2 separate regions of the Homo sapiens genome follow, and region 1 is linked to region 2. Evidence: fine-mapped expression QTL. A gene starts in region 2. The other region holds a variant in brackets. All regions are shown on one strand. Distances are from middle to middle. Region 1 has its middle 25 kb from the start of TMEM64. Region 2 holds the start of TMEM64 (transmembrane protein 64).

Region 1 (4,393 bases), 26 kb before region 2:
ACATGAAATCCTGAAAAAGAGTTTTTGGACTCTTTTCTTAGCATGTTTTGCCACAAAATAGCATTTCCAGTATTATAGTACATATTAAACTATATTAGCATCCTCTGATTACTTGTCTGTCTTCTCTAATTGGCTGTATATCCCTTGAAGGCAAATAGTCATCTCTGTACCTCCAGAGTAGTATAGTCTGAGCTCCATGAATAAATAATTAATGAAAGCTCCTGGAGCTTCCAGGGTCAAGGTTAATAGTACTATACTTAATCGTCTAATTAGTATTACTACTTCAAAAGCCTCAGAAAATTGTGTCACATGCTGAATCTTACAGCCTAAGTGGTTAACATGGTGTAACAAGAGTACTTTACTCACGTCTCAGATTTCACTTTCTGTTCCTCTGCTTTTGTGTGAAATGTACTGTTTTTTTTGTTTATATTTTCCCTTTTCCCCTCTTCTACTTGTCATTCCTCCTCTGCATAGCTGTTCCTATTATGGAAATAAATTATGTTTAAATGTTTATGAATTGAGCAAAGTTGAACTTTCCTGGATTAAATAGCAATACGGTATTTAAATTACCATTTTTTTTTCTCAGAACGAACATCTTTCTGGATTCCTTTTAATACTGAGGGCCTTATAATTTGACAATGTAAATTAAAAGGCATCTAACATAAAAATGATACATAAATTTGTTTTTTTAAAAAAAAGCACACGCATCATATGTAAGAATTTATCACTATCTTCTGCTGTCTCAAATTTCCACTTTAAAGAAATATAAAAATTTGTGTAAGACTAGCAAGCAGCAACTGCTTTTATAATTGACTTTTCCAGTCCTATTCATCTTTTTTGATTAAACATAAGGTATAATCTGTTGAAAATTCAGTAATTCAAAAAATGAAGAATCATTTTTGATATCTATGTCTAGATTAAATACTGAAAAGAACTTTTTGTAAGGTACTTTACATAAGTGGAACTGTGGGGATTATCTAGAATAGAAATACCATTGTGCACCAAGGGTTATTTGTGACCATGTGTAAATACAAAAATAAATTTGGCCTATAGTTTAAAATTTTACTTATATGTAACTTTATTGATAAATTTTCATGCAGTAAAAACTGTATTATACTGTCCAGAATTATATAGATGTATTATATATTGCAGATAGAGATGTATGCACCATTTTATAATATCAAAAAGTTAGAGGTATGTACTTTGGAGTTGAGTTTCAGATATCTTCTAAAATTAATTTCTGAAATAGTAATGTAACAATTTATTTTTCCTTCTCTTTCTAATGAAATATAAGAATTACTGAAGCATAAACATAACTGATCATGAATAGCTGCAGCAACTACAATAGTTAGCATACACATTAGACCTCTAATGGTCTTTGAATGAAAACCTGGAGGTAATCAAATGAGCAAAGTGACAAAAAGAGATTACTGATTTGTCTGCAAAAAGGGATTGCTGAGTGTTTCATTCATTTATCCAGTGAATGGCTATTGAATATCTAATATATGTTAGGCCAGGTGTTGGGCCCAAGGAATCCAGCAGTAAACAAGACACAGTCTTCTGTACTCTCGTGGTTTACAGTCTAGCTGAAACAAAAATTTTCATAATGAAATTACAAGTGAGCATACAAAAAAAGGATGGTTCATTGGGCTACAGACTCATAAAACCTAGTCTGAGAGGCTAACAAATTAAAATGTGTGTGTGTGTGTAATTATGAGTTTAATTTTCCTAACATAATCAGTTATTTAAATGATAATACTTCCAGAGTTAATCTTGGTTAAAGACTCT[G/A]TGCTTTAGGAGACATGATGAAGCCCTCCCCTAAATACCTTCCCCAATAGTGTTCTGAATAAAGGTTACAGTCAAGTGTATGATTAAATGCCATTCAACAGGAAAAACAAAATCTATTGAGTGCCTAATAAGTGCTGGAGAACAAGACAGACATGTTTTGGCCCTCGGGTAGCTTCCAGTCTAGGAAAATGATGGCTGTTGAAGAATAATACAACATGATGAGTATCTCAGTGGGAGAAGGCCAGAGAGCCAAAGGAAGATACAATTTGGAAGCTGAGCCAGTCAGCTGTTGGCTGAAGGTTTCCAAGAGATTCGCAGACAAGTAAACAGCTCTACCTTTGGCACCTTTAGCATTCTGTGGGATTTGCTGTTCTTTGTCTCTTATAGAGTGTGTCTTTTCACATAGTTTTCATATTAAAATGCTCCCTTTTCCCCCAACACACACACTCACACATGCACACCAATGGCTCATGACTGGGTAACACAGGTAAGATCAGTTTTACGTTATGAAGGAGAACTGATCTTTTACCCTTGGCACTTTTCTTTCTTAAACTTGACTTTCCCCCTTCTTACTGCTGAAGTTACAAGACTCTGAAAGCAACAATTAGGGCGTAGGCCTAGGGCAGTGGAATCAAAGGAGCCTCTTTGCTTTCTTTTCATCTAGGCTTTAGGCCAGCGGCACAAAAGGAGACTTTGCGGAATGCCATGACTCAGCCTCACTCACTAGGGCTCTGGTTTAGTGCCAGAGACTCATCGTAAAGAATGCGTGTGTGCTCAGACTTTTTCATGGGTCCCTAAGCAATCAAAAGATGGCTGATTTATTTTTTAGAGACTTGAGAGTTCCAACAAAGCTTCTTTTTAACAGAGATTTATCTAACAGAAAACAAGATTACAATATGTTGTTTTCTTTAGGAAGGATACTCAAAATTTGCAATATTTTTGTTGTTTTTAAAGTATAGAACTCTAGTTGACATTCACACCGTTTCCACCAGTTTAGGGAGTAGGGTTGCTTGCTTTGATAAGATCACATGATATTGATTGAGCTGATTTTTCTAGGGTCAGGTTTTCCCCTGTTGTCAAGAGAGAGGTCACCACAGGCCTCCCTTCCCTCTTGCTTCCAATCAGATGGCTGGCAGAACAGGGTTGGAAGAGAATTTGGGGATAGAGGGGTTGTCCTCTCTTCCTTCTTCTCTCTAAGTTCGGAGCACAGCCTACACCACATCTGCAGTACACAGGGAGCTAACAGGGTCATCTTGTTTGTCTTTCTCTCCATTTCCATTAGTGCCCACTGGAGTCTAAGAAAAGGAAAAGAAATGAAGAGAGAGCATCCTAAGAGCCTGCCTTAGCTTGAGGCTATTCAGGCCTAATAAGCTCAGGAAAAAGAAGCCTTTCATGTACTCAGCCAAGCTTACTAGAGCTTTGTAGTGGCTTGAAGCTAAATTCCTAACTAATAAAGTTTTTTTTTTTAACTGTTGTTGCTTAGTTACTTTCTCCCTTGAATCATTTGCTTTATGAGAATACACCTCTCAGAGGTATCAGGGGAGGAGACTTAGTTAAGGCGAGTTTAGAAATACTCTTAGCACTCTGACAAAACACATTAAACAGTAACCCAATCTCCCTCAAATTTCTAAATAATGTACACATGAACTATTGATTTAAAAGTAAAAAATGCTGTTTTTTTTGTAGAATATATTTTACTGATATTGGTGTCAGTAAAGGCCTTGACATTCACTGTAAACAGCATAATATACAGAGCAATTACATATTTGTAAACCAATCCATGGAGTTCAACAAAATCTTGACAGTGAAGCCAAGACTGCCCACGCTGAATAAAGGATACCCATACTACCACCTACACTGTTCATGAGCTGCTCCACTTGACTTGCTAAATTTAGAATTAGAGAACTATTAAATATTAAGAGAGAGGAGAATGGTTTGAATGCTGGTAATAAAATATATCTACCGTGAGTTACTTTGCAGCTATGTGGTTGAAATTTTACAATGAATAGAACTACTAATCGCTGTAATATACCATGCTAGACTTTCCAAAAGCAAGTGCTAACATAAAAATTTCCCTTTGCACACATTCTTAGAAATGGATATTATCTGTTTTTAGCAAGAGTGTCGTGTAAATTCTGGCATTTATATACTGAGTCTCAAAGATCTCTACCTACATGGTTTTCATATAAGTAGAGATCTATATGGTTTGCTGCTCTTACCCACCCTGTGAGGTGAGTGGGTCAGTCACAGCTGTTGAAAAAATAGCTTTGTAGAGTTCCCCTTCTCAGCTGGCTGCTCTTCTTATTCATCGGGGTGTCACATATATAGTCTGAAAAGGCATGTTAAATATTATAGTAATTTGAAAATGAAGCCAAAAATGTTGGTTTTATAATGTAGAACACAAAAACAAAGCTGGAACTAGGTGGATGTTGAGGCTAAGATTCTCAATGATAATGGGGTGGGGGAAAAGGTGTTCTGTTTATTCAAAAAAGGCATGGGCTTTAGAAAACTGATAGATAATCTTTTTCCTAGATGATCTCACACACTGCCTTGGTTTTACCAACTACTAAAATACTGGTATCTTCTATATTTGCATCTTTAGGCT
Region 2 (4,393 bases):
CATTGTTGGAGGAGAGGCCTGGTGGGAGGTGATTGGATCATGGAAATGGAGTTCTCATGAATGGTTTAGCACTATCCCTCCTTGGTACTGTTTTACGGAAGTAAAACTTTAGGTAAATGCTGTGGCAGCAGTAAGAGCTGCTCCTCCGTGTGAGTCACAAGGCTTGGAAAAGAGAGTTGAAGGATGTAGCACTTGCCTGGCACCTAGTAGGGACTCTACCTGACTCAGCCCAACCAGGGTGGATAGGAGGGAATGGCATGGAGGAGCCTGATCAGCCAGCAAGCAGGAGCCTGATCAGCAACGACCTAAGGTGTCCTGGTCCGTTATCTGGCAGGCAACTGGGTGGAAGGTCATCCACTGAGATATGAAACCCAGAAGGAAGAGTCGGTCTATGGGGGATCACACTTTTAATGAGGGATACCATCACATAGTTAACATTTACTGACGACTGATTTCAGGCATAGTGCTAATCACCTTACTTTACTATTTTGTTTAATCCTCACAACACTCTTACGAAGCTAAGTTGTACCATTATCTCCATTTTGCAATTTAAAAAGAAACAATGAGATTCAGGGACTGATTGTTTGACCAGTTACTAAACGTGATTTGCACCAGAGCCCAAGTTGATCATCTATCTACCAAGCTCTGCTGAGTTTGAGCTGCCTGCAGAATTCCACCTGGATGTGTCCACAGGCCGGACCACAAGCTGGGAAGTGTGGGCAGAGACATTCACTTAGGGGTCACTTCTTATGGGGGGCACGGCAGGATCAAAGCTGTTGGGCCTGGATGAGATGGCTCAGGAAACTCTGAAAAGGAAGACGGCAAGAGGACCTGGGGAACACTAACCTTAAACAGGCGGAAAGAGGAAAAGAAACCAGCGAATGAGTTTGAGAAGCTGCCCTCTGAGAAAGCGAACTCTTAAAAATGTCCTTCAGTGAATCTTTTTCAAATGCCCCTAGACCAATGCCTGGCACTCGATAAAGGACCTCTGGAGTCAGAAGGGGCGTTCTGTCAAGGGGGTGGGGGGACTTTATGCCTAATTTTTCCAGCTCCTAAAGGACCAAGCCATATGAAACCCACAGGGAGACCTCGATACCTGGGAGGCAAGTCTGAGACAAGAATAGGGTCAAGGACCATAGCCAAACCCTCCTCAGAACACAAGAACTCTTTCCCCCATTCGACAGGGCAGCGGCGGATGTGAGCGCCACTCACAGCTGCCCGCTCTGATAAGAGGTTACTGCGGAAACGACCAGGAGGGAACGGGCGAGGATCCAAGCCGCTCACGGACTGGGGTCGCCTCGGTCCGAGAGGGGGAGCGCGCGCCCTGACACGCAGGCATGCGCGCGCCTGTGGGAAGTCGGGGAGCGCGCCTGGGCCCCTGCCCGTCGCCCGGCTCTCCCCTCGTTGCAGCCTCGCTCTCCCTAGAGCTCCTTCTCCCCTCCCAGTGGTTTCCCTCCGCAGCTGTGGGCCTCCGCTGGCCCACGCGGACGCCCCGCGACCCCCGCAGCCTGGCGGGCAGCGCGTCACGGGAGCGGACCAGAACACAGCCCGCTCCGCCCCATCGCCCGCGGCCCCGCCCCCTCTGGCCGACAAGGGGCGGGCACCACCGGAGTGGGCTCCGTGGGTGCTGGGGCAGGAGTTTCCTCACTCCCCGCCTGGCCGTCGCTCCTCCGCTGACTCCGCGCCCTTCTACGGGCCGTCTCCCACCCTCTGAGCGGACGCAGGGAGTCGATGCCGGGCGAACCGGGCGCCATGAAGGGCAGCTGCCTAACGGGCGCCGCGGCGGAGGGGCTGGCCGGCTGAGGGCCCGCGCTGGGCCGAGGCATGCGGAGCCCGGGCGGGATCCTGCTCCAGGCGCTGCCCCGGCTGCTGCAGCACGCCGCCCTCCCGGGCCTCGCCGAGCTGCCGGCCCGCTGGGCCCTGCCGCGGGGTGCGGGCGGGGACGGCCCGGCGGACCGCCTTCCCCGCGGGGGCGGGGCGAGCGCGGCGGCGGCAGCAGCGGCGGCCTCGGGCGCCCTGCTCGGCGCCTATCTGGAGCGCCACGGTCCGCCCGAGGCTTCGGAGCTGCCGGAGCCGGGCGGGGCCTTGGCGGGCGGCCCCGGGAGTGGCGGCGGCGGCGTGGTGGTCGGCGTGGCTGAGGTGAGAAACTGGCGCTGCTGCTGCCTCGGCAGCACCTGTTGGTGCCGGAGCCTCGTGCTGGTCTGCGTGTTGGCCGCCCTGTGCTTCGCTTCCCTGGCCCTGGTCCGCCGCTACCTTCACCACCTCCTGCTGTGGGTGGAGAGCCTTGACTCGCTGCTGGGGGTCCTGCTCTTCGTCGTGGGCTTCATCGTGGTCTCTTTCCCCTGCGGCTGGGGCTACATCGTGCTCAACGTGGCCGCTGGCTACCTGTACGGCTTCGTGCTGGGCATGGGTCTGATGATGGTGGGCGTCCTCATCGGCACCTTCATCGCCCATGTGGTCTGCAAGCGGCTCCTCACCGCCTGGGTGGCCGCCAGGATCCAGAGCAGCGAGAAGCTGAGCGCGGTTATTCGCGTAGTGGAGGGAGGAAGCGGCCTGAAAGTGGTGGCGCTGGCCAGACTGACACCCATACCTTTTGGGCTTCAGAATGCAGTGTTTTCGGTAAGTGGGGTCCCGCTGGCCTATCCCTCTCCAAGTCTGTTTTTGAGCGGTCTTGTGGCGGCCCTAGGAGGGCGCTCTATCAGATAAATACCAGCAGAGAAGTGACATTGACGGCAGGAGTTACGATTACTTTCCATCGCAGCCTGGGAAGTCTGTCCTACACATAAAACATACCTAACGCGGAGCCTCGAAAGAGAGTTTGTTAGATAAAAAACTAATGTTTCTTTTAGGGATGGGAATGTAATTAAAAATGAAAAGCCCTCTTAACAATAGGCATGCAGGGACATGAATGGAAATGCCCATCTTTAATACTTGTCATCTTTTGTAGCAGCTTTGGCAACATTTAGGGAGGAAAGCTTTCTCTCTTGCTTACATAAATACATCCAGGGTTTTGATTCAAGTTTTTAGCGACATGGACCAAAGGAAGTGTTTCAGTAAACAGTGGAGGAGCTAGTTGCAGACTCCAGATTTTGGAGTTTGCTAAATTTGAAATGGGCTTTTTCTTCTTCAAGTAATTGTGCTTTAATGTGATGTAAAGAAGAAAATCCTACTGTTTATCTTTCTTTCTTTGGAGGAACTTCATTTCGAAATCACGGGGTGGTGAATAAAACAGAACAGATAATCTTTTGCTCAGTTAGCATATATTTTTCTTCTGTATCTGCACCATTATAGACTCTTTTCTGTCCTTGTATTCATATGTTTTGCTTACTCAGGTTTCTATAGCTAGTGTGCATCTCCATGCAACTGATTTAGGATAGAAACACTGCTAGTGAAGAGATCATCTTATTGGAAGAAAGGAATCTGGTCTTTACAAACTTTGTGACTTTGGATCAAGTTACTGACCCTGTCTGGCTTCACTTTTCTCTTTTCGAAAGTGAAGGACTTAAAAAAGTAGATTACCATGTTCCCCAAATTCAGTGATTCTAAACTACCAAGAGTTTATGTAGATTCCCAGGAACTTAACCCTTCAGCTAGACTTAAAGAAAACTTACTGAAATAAAGAGATAATTGCATTCAAAACCATAGGAATTGATGTATTTTAAGTGATTCTGATGCATTATTTTGTTTCAAAACGTAAATTATTGTTAGTTTCTGGAAACTTTCTCATTTTGTTTTGAATTAGGAATAATACTAACCAATCTGCCTCTTTGTGATGAAATTAAAACCTTTCTCTTTTTTCTTTTCTTTTAAATGCCTTTTGCAAACCTCTTGATTCCAAGCAACAGCAGCAATGACTATGGAATGGTATTTGGTAGAGGCAGTGGAAACAGATAAGGGGTTTTCTGTAGAGATAAAGTTTAGTGTTAGCAGTAGTTTGGTATAGTCTTAGTCTTAAATTTCTTTTTCATACCCTCCTATAGTATGAAATATAAACTTGAACTTTGACCCAGTCTTGGGTAATAATAAATAAACTGTCCCAGGACTTTGAAAGAAGGTTGGGCTAAGGAACCTAAATAGATTGATTCTGTTAGTTTGTGTTTCAATATAGCATGTATCCTTGGGCCTTTTCTTGTCCATCTACCGTGTGCCAACTACTGTCCTCGGCTCTTTCCACATATTTCTGATCCTTAAACCAGCCCTGCAGAAGTTAATTATGCACATATTATAGACTAGTGTCTACTAGTTGGGAGCACAGGGCTGGTGTTGTGAAATCCTGCTGTCTGCTTAGAATCTAGTGACCTTGGGCAAGTTGTTTATTCTCTCTGGGCTTCAGTTTCTTATTTGTAAAATGAGGAAAGTAATGATACCTACTTCCATAGGATTATTGAGAAGA

What was found. PIP is the estimated chance that this variant, and not a neighbour inherited with it, causes the effect.
Region 1: its variant is the best candidate, but not a certain one, in a credible set for the expression of TMEM64 in whole blood (INTERVAL, PIP 0.53).

What each region holds. Positions count from the first base shown.
Region 1 is chr8:90,669,177-90,673,569 of GRCh38, reverse strand. No RefSeq gene overlaps it. Among named protein-coding and RNA genes, the nearest start is that of TMEM64, 25 kb to the right of the region's middle. The variant G/A (reference allele first, on the strand shown) is at 1,789.
Region 2 is chr8:90,643,337-90,647,729 of GRCh38, reverse strand. It overlaps TMEM64 (transmembrane protein 64), which reads left to right and starts at 1,647. Exons shown (of 3, transcript NM_001008495.4): 1 at 1,647-2,619. The coding sequence starts at 1,825. It overlaps LOC124906712 (translation initiation factor IF-2), which reads right to left and starts at 1,289. Exons shown (of 2, transcript NR_185471.1): 1 at 1,097-1,289. RefSeq lists silencers at 1,241-1,650, 1,781-2,180 and an enhancer at 2,291-2,620.